Regions from separate parts of the Homo sapiens genome. Here region 2 is linked to region 1. A link means that fine-mapping ties the variant in region 1 to the expression of a gene that starts in the linked region. Tissue or cell type: tibial artery. Region 1 holds a variant in brackets; the other region holds the start of a gene. All regions are shown on one strand. Distances are between the middles of the regions. Region 1 has its middle 20 kb from the start of ARPC5. Region 2 holds the start of NCF2 (neutrophil cytosolic factor 2).

Region 1 (5,371 bases):
TGACTGTAATTTTCCATTACCTTCCCAAATCCTATAAAACGGCCCCACCCTTATTTCCCTTCACTGACTCTCTTTTTGGACTCAGCCCACCTGCACCCAGGTGAAATAAACAGCTTTATTGCTCACACAAAGCCTGTTTGGTGGTCTCTTCACACAGACACGTGTGAAATTTGGTGCCGTGACTCGGATCGGGGGACCTCCCTTGGGAGATCAATCCCCCGTCCTCCTGCTCTTTGCTCCATGAGAAAGATCCACCTACGACCTCAGGTCCTCAGACCGACCAGCCCAAGAAACATCTCACCAATTTCAAATCCGGTAAGCGGCCTCTTTTTACTCTCTTCTCCAACCTCCCTCACTATCCCTCAACCTCTTTCTCCTTTCAATCTTGGCGCCACACTTCAATCTCTCCCTTCTCTTAATTTCAATTCCTTTCATTTTCCAGTAGAGACAAAGGAGACATGTTTTATCCGTAGACCCAAAACTCCGGCGCCAGTCACGGACTGGGAAGGCAGCCTTCCCTTGGTGTTTAATCATTGCAGGCACACCTCTCTGATCATTCACCCATGTTTCAAAGGTGTCAGACCACGCAGGGACACCTGCCTTGGTCCTTCACCCTTAGCGGCAAGTCCCGCTTTTCTGAGGAAGGGGCAAGTACCCCAACCCCTTCTTTCCTTGTCTCTATCCCTTCTCTGCTTTTCTGGGGAAGGGGCAAGTACCCCAACCCCTTCTGTCCTTGTCTCTACCCCTTCTCTGCTTTTCTGGGGAAGGGGCAAGTACCCCAACCCCTTCTGTCCTTGTCTCTATCCCTTCTCTGCTTTTCTGGGGAAGGGGCAAGTTCCCCAACCCCTTCTGTCCTTGTCTCTACCCCTTCTCTGCTTTTCTGGGGAAGGGGCAAGTACCCCAACCCCTTCTCTCATTGTCTCTACCCCTTCTCTGCTTTTCTGGGGAAGGGGCAAGTACCCCAACCCCTTCTGTCCTTGTCTCTACCCCTTCTCTGCTTTTCTGGGGGAGGGGCAAGTACCCCAACCTCTTCTGTCCTTGTCTCTACCCCTTCTCTGCTTTTCTGGGGAAGGGGCAAGTTCCCCAACCCCTTCTGTCCTTGTCTCTACCCCTTCTCTGCTTTTCTGGGGAAGGGGCAAGTACCCCAACCCCTTCTCTCCTTGTCTCTACCCCTTCTCTGCTTTTCTGGGAGAGGGGCAAGTTCCCCTCAACCCCTTCTCCTTCACCCTTAGCAACAAGTCCCACTTTTCTAGGGGGCAAGAACCCCCAATCCCTTATTTCCACACCCCAACCTCTTATCTCTGTGCCCCAATCCCTTATTTCCGTGACCCGACCCCCTTCCCACTTTTCGGGAGGGCAAGAACCCCCGAACCCCTTCCCTCCATGTTTCTACGCTCTCTTTCCTCTGGGTTTGTCTCCTTCACTATGGGCAACCTTCCACCCTCCATTCCTCCTTCTTCTCTCCCTTAGCCTGTGTTCTCAAAACTTAAAACCTCTTCAACTCACACCTGACCTAAAACCTAAATGCCTTATTTTCTTCTGCTATGCCGCTTGACCCCAATACAAACTCGACAGTAGTTCCAAATAACCAGAAAATGGCACTTTGAATTTTTCCATCTTGCAAGATCTAAATAATTCTTGTTGTAAAATAGGCAAATGGTCTGAGGTGCCTGACGTCCAGGCATTCTTTTACACATCAGTCCCTTCCTAGTCTCTGTGCCCAGTGCAACTCGTCCCAAATCTTCCTTCTTTCCCTCCCGCCTGTCCCCTCAGTACCAACCCCAAGCATCGCTGAGTCTTTCTAATCTTCCTTTTCTACAGACCCATCTGACCTCTCCCTTCCTCCCCAGGCTGCTCCTCTCCAGGCCGAGCTAGGTCCCAATTCTTCCTCAGCCTCTGCTCCTCCACCCTATAATCTTTTTGTCACCTCCCCTCCTCACACCTGGTCTGGCTTACAGTTTCGTTCCGTGACTAGCCCTCCCCCACCTGCCCAGCAATTTACTCTTAAAAAGGTGGCTGGAGCCAAAGGCATAGTCAAGGTTAATGCTCCTTTTTCTTTATCCCAAATCAGAAGTGTTTAGGCTCTTTTTCATCAAATATAAAAATCCAGCCCAGTTCATGGCTCCTTTGGCAGCAACCCTGAGATGCTTTACAGCCCTAGACCCTAAAAGGTCTAAAGGCCGTCTTATTCTCAA[T/A]ATACATTTTATTACCCAATCTGCTCCCGACATTAAATAAAACTCCAAAAATTGGAATCTGGCCCTCAAACCCCAAAACAGGACTTAATTAACCTCACCTTCAAGGTGTACAATAACAGAAAAAAGTTGCAATTCCTTGCCTCCACTGTGAGACAAACCCCAGCCACATCTCCAGCACACAAGAACTTCCAAACGCCTGAACCGCAGCAGCCAGGCCTTCCTCCAGAACCTCCTCCCCCAGGAGCTTGCTACACGTGCCGGAAATCTGGCCACTGGGCCAAGGAATGCCCTCAGCCCGGGATTCCTCCTAAGCCACGTCCCATCTGTGTAGGACCCCACTGAAAATCGGACTGTTCAACTCACCTGGCAGCCACTCCCAGAGCCCCTGGAACTCTGGCCCAAGGCTCTCTGACTGACTCCTTCCCAGATCTTCTCGGCTTAGCGGCTGAAGACTGATACTGCCCGATCGCCTCAGAAGCCCCCTAGACCATCACGGATGCCGAGCTTCAGGTAACTCTCACAATGGAAGGTAAGCCCGTCCCCTTCTTAATCAATACAGAGGCTACCCGCTCCACATTACATTCTTTTCAAGGGCCTGTTTCCCTTGCCTCCATAACTGTTGTGGGTATTGACAGCCAGGCTTCTAAACCTCTTAAAACTCCCCAACTCTGGTGCCAACTTAGACAATACTCTTTTAAGCACTCCTTTTTAGTTATCCCCACCTGCCCAGTTCCCTTATTAGGCTGAGACACCTTAACTAAATTATCTGCTTCCCTGACTATTCCTGGACTACAGCTATATCTCATTGCCGCCCTTCTTCCCAATCCAAAGCCTCCTTTGCGTCCTCCTCTTGTATCCCCCCACCTTAACCCACAAGTATAAGATACCTCTACTCCCTCCTTGGCGACTGATCATGCACCCCTTACCATCTCATTAAAACCTAATCACCCTTACCCCACTCGACACCAATATCCCATCCCGCAGCACGCTTTAAAAAGATTAAAGCCTGTTATCACTCGCCTGCTACAGCATGGCCTTTTAAAGCCTATAAACTCTCCTTACAATTCCCCCATTTTACCTGTCCTAAAACCAGACAAGCCTTACAAGTTAGTTCAGGATCTGCGCCTTATCAACCAAATTGTTTTGCCTATCCACCCCGTGGTGCCAAACCCATATACTCTCCTATCCTCAATACCTGCCTCTACAACCCATTATTCTGTTCTGGATCTCAAACATGCTTTCTTTACTATTCCTTTGCACCCTTAATCCCAGCCTCTCTTTGCTTTCACTTGGACTGACCCTGACACCCATCAAGCTCAGCAAATGACCCAGGCTGTACTGCCGCAAAGCTTCACAGACAGCCCCCATTACTTTAATCAAGCCCAAATTTCTTCCTCATCTGTTACTTATCTCGGCATAATTCTCATAATAACACACGTGCTCTCCCTGCCAATCGTATCCGACTGATCTCTCAAACCCCAGCACCTTCTACAAAACAACTCCTTTCCCTCCTAGGCATGGTTAGCGCGGTCAGAATTCTTACACAAGAGCCAGGACCACACCCTGTAGCCTTTCTGTCCAAACAACTTGACCTTACTGTTTTAGCCTAGCCCTCATGTCTGCGTGCAGCGGCTGCCACTGCTTTAATACTTTTAGAGGCTCTCAAAATCACAAACTATGCTCAACTAACTCTCTACAGTTCTCATAACTTCCAAAATCTATTTTCTTCCTCATACCTGACGCATATACTTTCTGCTCACCGGCTCCTTCAGCTGTACTCACTCTTTAAGTCCCACAATTACCATTCTTCCTGGCCTGGACTTCAATCTGGCCTCTCACATTATTCCTGATACCACACCTGACCCCCATGACTGTATCTCTCTGATCCACCTGATATTCACCCCATTTCCCCAAATTTCCTTCTTTCCTGTTCCTCACCCTGATCATGCTTGATTTATTAATGGCAGTTCCACCAGGCCTAATCGCCGCACACCAGCAAAGGCAGGTTATGCTATAGTACAAGCCACTAGCCCGCCTCTTAGAACCTCTCATTTCCTTTCCATCGTGGAAATCTATCCTCAAGGAAATAACTTCTCAGTGTTCCATCTGCTATTCTACTACTCCTCAGGGATTATTCAGGCCCCCTCCCTTCCCTACACATCAAGCTCGAGGATTTGCCCCCACCCAGGACTGGCAAATTAGCTTTACTCAACATGCCCGAGTCAAGAGACTAAAATACCTCTTAGTCTAAATAGACACTTTCACTGAATAAGTAAAGGCCTTTCCTACAGGGTCTGAGAAGGCCACCGCAGTCATTTCTTCCCTTCTGTCAGACATAATTCCTCAGTTTAGCCTTCCCACCTCTATACAGCCTGATAACAGACCAGCCTTTATTAGTCAAATCAGCCAAGCAGTTTTTCAGGCTCTTAGTATTCAGTGAAACCTTTATATCCCTTACGGTCCTCCGTCTTCAAGAAAAGTAGAATGGACTAAAGGTCTTTTAAAAACACACCTCACCAAGCTCAGCCACCAACTTAAAAAGGACTGGACAATACTTTTACCACTTTCGCTTCTCAGAATTCAGGCCTGTTCTCGGAATGCTACAGGGTACAGCCCATTTAAGCTCCTGTATAGACGCTCCTTTTTATTAGGCCCCAGTCTCATTCGACACCAGACCAACTTAGACTGTGCCCATAAAAACTTGTCATCCCTACTATATTCTGTCTAGTCATACTCCTATTCACCATTCTCAACTACTCATACATGCCCTGCTCTTGTTTACACTGCCGGTTTACACTGTTTCTCCAAGCCATCACAGCTGATATCTCCTGGTGCTATCCCCAAACTGCCACTCTAAACTCTTGAAGTAAATAAATAATCTTTGCTGGCAGGACTATGCTGAATGTCCTTAGGCACTCTCTAATCAGATGTCCTAGGTCCTCCCAATTCTTAGACCTTTTATACCTGTTTTTCTCCTTCTCTTATTCCATTTAGTTTTTCAATTCATACAAAACCGTATCCAGGCCATCACCAATCATTCTATACGACAAATGTTTCTTCTAACAACCCCACAATATCACCCCTTACCACAAGACCTCCCTTCAGCTTAATCTCTCCCACTCTAGGTTCCCACACCGCCCCTAATCCCGCTTGAAGCAGCCCTGAGAAACATCGCC
Region 2 (5,371 bases), 26 kb before region 1:
GGTGGCACATGCCTGTGGTCCCAGCTACTTGGGGGACTGAGGTAGGTCAATCGCTCAAGCCCAGGAGGTGGAGACTGCCGTGAGCTGTGACGGCACCACTGCACTCCAGCCTGGGCAACAAAGTAAGGCACCCTGTCTCAAAAAAAAAAAAAAAAAAAAAAAAAAAAAATCCAATGATACAAATAAAGACAAAGTGGACTATAAGGGTGCAGACACTAATGGATTATCACCAACAGAAATCTTAGAAGAAAAGAAACACTAAAGCATTTTCCCAAAGGAGCTCATCATTTTAAAAATGGACTTGACAATATGAAGCGCCTTCTTTGTAACTGTCTCTGACCTTCTCTGAGACTAGAATTCAGAATAGATAATTTAGACATTTACCTGATACTAATAAAAAATACATATCTATATTTAAAATATAGTTAGTTATATTTAATGACCTCATTCCCAAGTTCCTTTTTCATTAGTGTAGCTTTCATTTCTATTATCGCTGTTTTAATAATATGATTTAATATGATTAGATAGAAGCTTTGAGCCAGTAGACACTATGTTACTAAATCAGTACTTTAAAATCTTTGGTCTTCTGTCTTTCATTCATATGAATTTAACTGCTGTTTGCTCTAATTTCTTTGAGTTCTCCTAGTTTGAGTAGAGTACAATTTTACTGTGAAACAATGCAGCGAGACTGTGCTATGAAGTGAAGGTAGAGTTTTTGGAGGTGATAATGATGTCAAACTTAAAGATACAATTCCTATCCAACACAACAGAGCACCTTGTCCAGGAGAGTAGTAATTACTATTTATTGCTCTGTGGAAGATAAAAAAGATAGGGAAATAGGAGAAGCTTCTTTGAAAAATGAAACATCATTAGACGGGCTTGGTGGTGCATGCCTGTAATCCCAGCTACTTGGGAGGCTGAGGCAGGAGAATCACTTGAACCCAGGAGGCAGAGGTTGCAGTGAGCCGAGATTGCACCACTGCACTCCAGCCTGGGTGACAGAGTGAGACTCCATCTCAAAAAAAAAAAAAAAGAAAGAAAAAATGATATCTAATGTAATAATGAAATTTTAACCCTTGTTGCATTTCTTGTATTCCTATGAATGTATTGAACATTCAGTTTAAATAAATAATAAAATTTATTGCAAATGAAAATAATTAAAATATTATATAAATTGTTATATTTGTTTACTATACAAACTTATACATGAATAGTATACAATTAAAATGATAATGAATAAGAATGCATATAAATGCTAGTAGGAAGGGCTCAAGCAGGAAAACAAAGAAAGGCAGAAGGAATGAGAAGGCTAGAAGCAGAGGAATGCCAGGAGAAACAGAGACATGTGGGCCTGAAGGCCTGGGAGCTGAGAAGTGAGTGGTGGCCCACACAACCTTGCCAAGGATCCCATATCCAGGCCAAGGCAGGAGGCTACAGTCCCTGCTGGCATAGCTGTGCCCAGACTAGCTGCCAATCTCTTCTCCTGGACAATGTGCACTTTGTGTCCATCAGCCCTCAGAATGTGTGGTGCTGTTCACTCAGCCCCTCAGCAGGCCCCTGAGAGGAGGTGGGGCCATGTCCTTCCTCCAGCCAGAGGTGGGGGGTCCTGCCATGCTCTGCCTTAGAGCCTGAGATTGACTTGTCAAGCTATGTGAGAACATTTCAGTCACTTCTCTGTCTTCCTGTCAGGAGGGTGTGGCTGAGGCTTGTTTACCTACTGTTGGAGTGTGGAAGGGACTGATTCTTTAAGGGACCTGGGGAGTCAACCACTGCCACACCTTGCAAAGACTGGCAGTAATCGGTAAAAATAATAACTAACTCTTATACAGTGGTGTGAAGTTCCACGAGACATTAATAGTTTGGCATCTCACTTAATTTTCATGATATTTAGAAACTCAGGAAGCTGAAAGCCAGATGTCTACATAGGCTACATAGCTTGCTTAAGACTAAAAGTCCAGAGAGAGACAGAGGCTAGGATTCGATCCTAGATCTTCTCCTTCCAAACTCCATACCCTTTCCACCTTACCACAACCAATCAAAAAAATAATTATCGAGAATGCTTAACTCCATACTATGGTATTTGAGTGAGAAAACATAACGAAAAAGATGCGAGACATCCCACACCATGCCCCCAGCAGACATCACTAGTCAATCACAGTACAATTTCCTCTTGCCAGCCTCAGCATCTTTAAAAGAGTCTCCTTTATAATTGATCAGAATTGTCACTTGGGATAAAAGCTATTTTTTGTAAGTGCCTCCCTTAAATCTCTTGAGCAGGCAAAGTCGACACACATGAAAGTCTTGGAAAGCCAAAAGAGGTGCCTTAGAATCAATAATCAGGTGTAAAGCGCTGGGATAGATAGAGATTCTGTGCCCAGAAGGAGTTCTGTGTAGAAGAAAGTACGACTAGGACAGCCTTCACAAAGGTGTTAAAGACACTTGTAGAATGATTTTAATTTAGAAGATGGAGAAAGAGGCAACCCTGGCTGCCCCTCACCTGCTCTCCACCTGGAGAGCTTTTAAAACTGGCTGCCTGGGGCCCCTCCCAGACCAGTTAAATCAGGCTGTCTAGGGGTGGAGCTTGGGCAACTTTTGTTCTTTTCAATCTCCCCAGAGGTTAGGTTTCCGAAATGCAATGGGGTTGAGAATCATAATAACAAATGCACAGAGGAGGCCCGGAAAGAGGCACCTCCACTCACCTTCTCTGCTTCAGTCATGTTCTTCAGGATAGTGTACATGCAGCCAATGTTGAAGCAAATCCGGGAGTGGGGGTCCTGGACGGCACTGAAGGCATCCAGGGCTCCCTTCCAGTCCTTCTTGTCCGCTGCCAGCACCCCTTCATTCCAGAGGCTGATGGCCTCCACCAGGGACATGATTAGGTAGAAACTAGGAGGCCAAGAGAGCTGCCAGGAGACAGAGAGAAGACAGGTTGGAGCGTCTCCCCTAGCAGGGCTGCCTTAGTGGCCCCCAAGGTGTTCACTTTCTGGGCCAGATGAGTAGAATGGGGCCCAGCCTCCCTTAAGATAACTTCTCAGTGTTGCAAATGCATCAGGAAATGTCCCCACCTTTTGGCAACTGACTCATAACCCTACCATGAGAGAGAAAAGGAAAGAAGCAGAGAGAGAGAGGGCGAGTAGGGGTGGAGTGTGGAGGAGAGAGGAAGTACATCAGCTGCTGCCTGAAGGATCAGTTCCCCAAAATGCTTCTGCTCTGTCACCCAGCTCCTCTTCTCTCTCCCACCCCTGTTCTGTGGCAGCTTCTGGCCAAAGTTCTGCTTCTAGAGCCAGGGTAACCTTGGCAGGTAGAGGCACCTCCCTGGTGATAATGACAGGAGGCAGCCAAATGCCTAGGCAGATAGGGGCAGGTCCCTGGTGAAACCCCACCTTCAAGCCAAAAACAGCCTGAAGGCTGAAAGACTAGGCTACTGGTCCCAAATGAAACCCGTGACCTAGAGTGAGAACTTCTGTTCCTGTTTGTCTGCTCTTTCCCAATTAATTATTTCTGACTAATGCCTTTTAACCAATTGAATGTTGCCTTTTCCAGTACTACCTATGTCCTGCCCCTCCCCTATTCTGAGCCCATAAAAGCCCCAGACTCACCCGCACTGGGGGGACTTTCCTGCCTTTGGGTAGGGGAACCACCCCTGCATCCCCTCTCCACTGAAAGCTGTTTTCATCACTCAATAAAACTCCCCACCCAGGCCGAGTGGGCAGGCCATCTCCTGCAGCAGGTAGTGTGGCCCACTGAGGCCTGGGCAGGGTGTCACCAGCCAGAGGTTCCTGGCTTACAAAGTGATGGAGAAAAAATCCTGTGTCACTGGGCCTTGATTTCCACACCCTTGTTAAATGGGAGTGTCAGATGAGAGGATAATTCTTTCCAGTCTTGAATGAATTCCTTGCTCACTTTTTTGTAATCCCATAGGCTGTATTAATATGTTAGTGTTTATCTTGAGCTGAAATTATCATTAACAAATTTTTGAGACAGGATAATCTTTGGAGATCCATCTGATCTGGGCCTGAAATAACTTTTTTTTTTTTTTTTTTGAGACGGAGTTTCACTCTTGTTGCCCAGGCTGGAATGCAGTGACACGATCTCAGCTCATTGCAACCTCTGCCTCCTGGGTTCAAGCAATTCTCCTGCCTCAGCCTCCTGAGTAGCTGGGATTACAGAAGCCTGCCACCACGCCCTGCTAATTTTTGTATTTTTAGTAGAGATGGGGTTTCACCATGTTGGCCAGGCTGATGGTCTCGAACTCCTGACCTCAGGTGATTCGGCCTCCTCGGCCTCCCCTCAAAGTGCTGGGATTACAGGAGTGAGCCACCGTGCCCAGCCGAAATAACTTTTATGAACATTCATGAAGTTCAGAGGGGACCAATTTCCTGCAAATGTCAAAATTGGGAGCCACATGACAGTGAATTATGACTTCTCCCATCTTCCAGTGAAAAATTGAAGAGATGAAAGTCCTGCACTGATGACTAATGGATTTACTAGTCTCTGAAAAAACAGATTTAAGAGTTCTTTCCTTGCTTTTCCAGAAAAGTAAAAATCAGTAAAACCTCCCAGAGGAATAACTGGGGGTAAAGGGTATAGCCAATTTGGCTTGCTAAAATCCAGGCTTCTTTTTAGGTAAAATGCATGTTTATGGGGGTCAAATACTTAGATGCAAACTCTTGTTTTGTAGCAACTGAAAGAATTCACTCATTATCACCAAGCTTCCCCTAAAAGCCTGAAAATAAAACTTAAAAATGTATACTCCACAGTGCTTGTAGGATTGAAGGTGTGAGAATTAAGAAGACATGTGTGTCTTTGTCCAGATTGTTTTCCTGTGTTTACAAGGCCTTCCCAGCTCTCTTCTTTGCCTGGCAAACTCCTACTCATCTTTCAAAGCCCAGTTTAAATGTCACCAACTGTGCTAAATCTAGCCCTGAACTCTGGGTAGTAGGAGAATTTTCCTCTCCTTTGTACCACCTTTACCCAAAAACTTGCATCATACTTACTGCAATTTATCTCTTTATCTGCTCAATTCATGGGCTCCTTGGAAGTTGGGACCATGCCTTTTCATTCTAGGATCTCTAGCACAGATACTCAATACATGATGAAGGGATACATTCTAAAAGAAATTAGAAATCATTGGTAAATGACCTGCAGGTAGCAGTGATGGCAGAAAGAGGTATTGCTATTCCATCTAGTGAATAAATAATCAGGACTTGAATAGCACATTAATTATTCCTGAGAAAACCAAATGGATTTGTAGCTAAATTAGACTTCATTTTTAAAAAATGTTTTTGCCCTCCTATTATCCCACCCTGACACTCAGAACTCTCCTTAATCTGACTGCCAAGACTTTTCTAGCCTTATCCCCAGAACTTTC

The links. PIP is the estimated chance that this variant, and not a neighbour inherited with it, causes the effect. A credible set is the group of variants that fine-mapping cannot tell apart.
Region 2: NCF2 starts here. The variant in region 1 is the best candidate, but not a certain one, in a credible set for the expression of NCF2 in tibial artery (GTEx, PIP 0.73).

The regions. Positions count from the first base shown.
Region 1 is chr1:183,613,475-183,618,845 of GRCh38, forward strand. No RefSeq gene overlaps it. Among named protein-coding and RNA genes, the nearest start is that of ARPC5, 20 kb to the right of the region's middle. The variant T/A (reference allele first, on the strand shown) is at 2,196.
Region 2 is chr1:183,587,457-183,592,827 of GRCh38, forward strand. It overlaps NCF2 (neutrophil cytosolic factor 2), which reads right to left and starts at 3,003. Exons shown (of 15, transcript NM_000433.4): 1 at 2,700-3,003. The coding sequence starts at 2,873. It also overlaps the pseudogene C18orf32P1. RefSeq lists enhancers at 3,023-3,282, 3,393-3,732.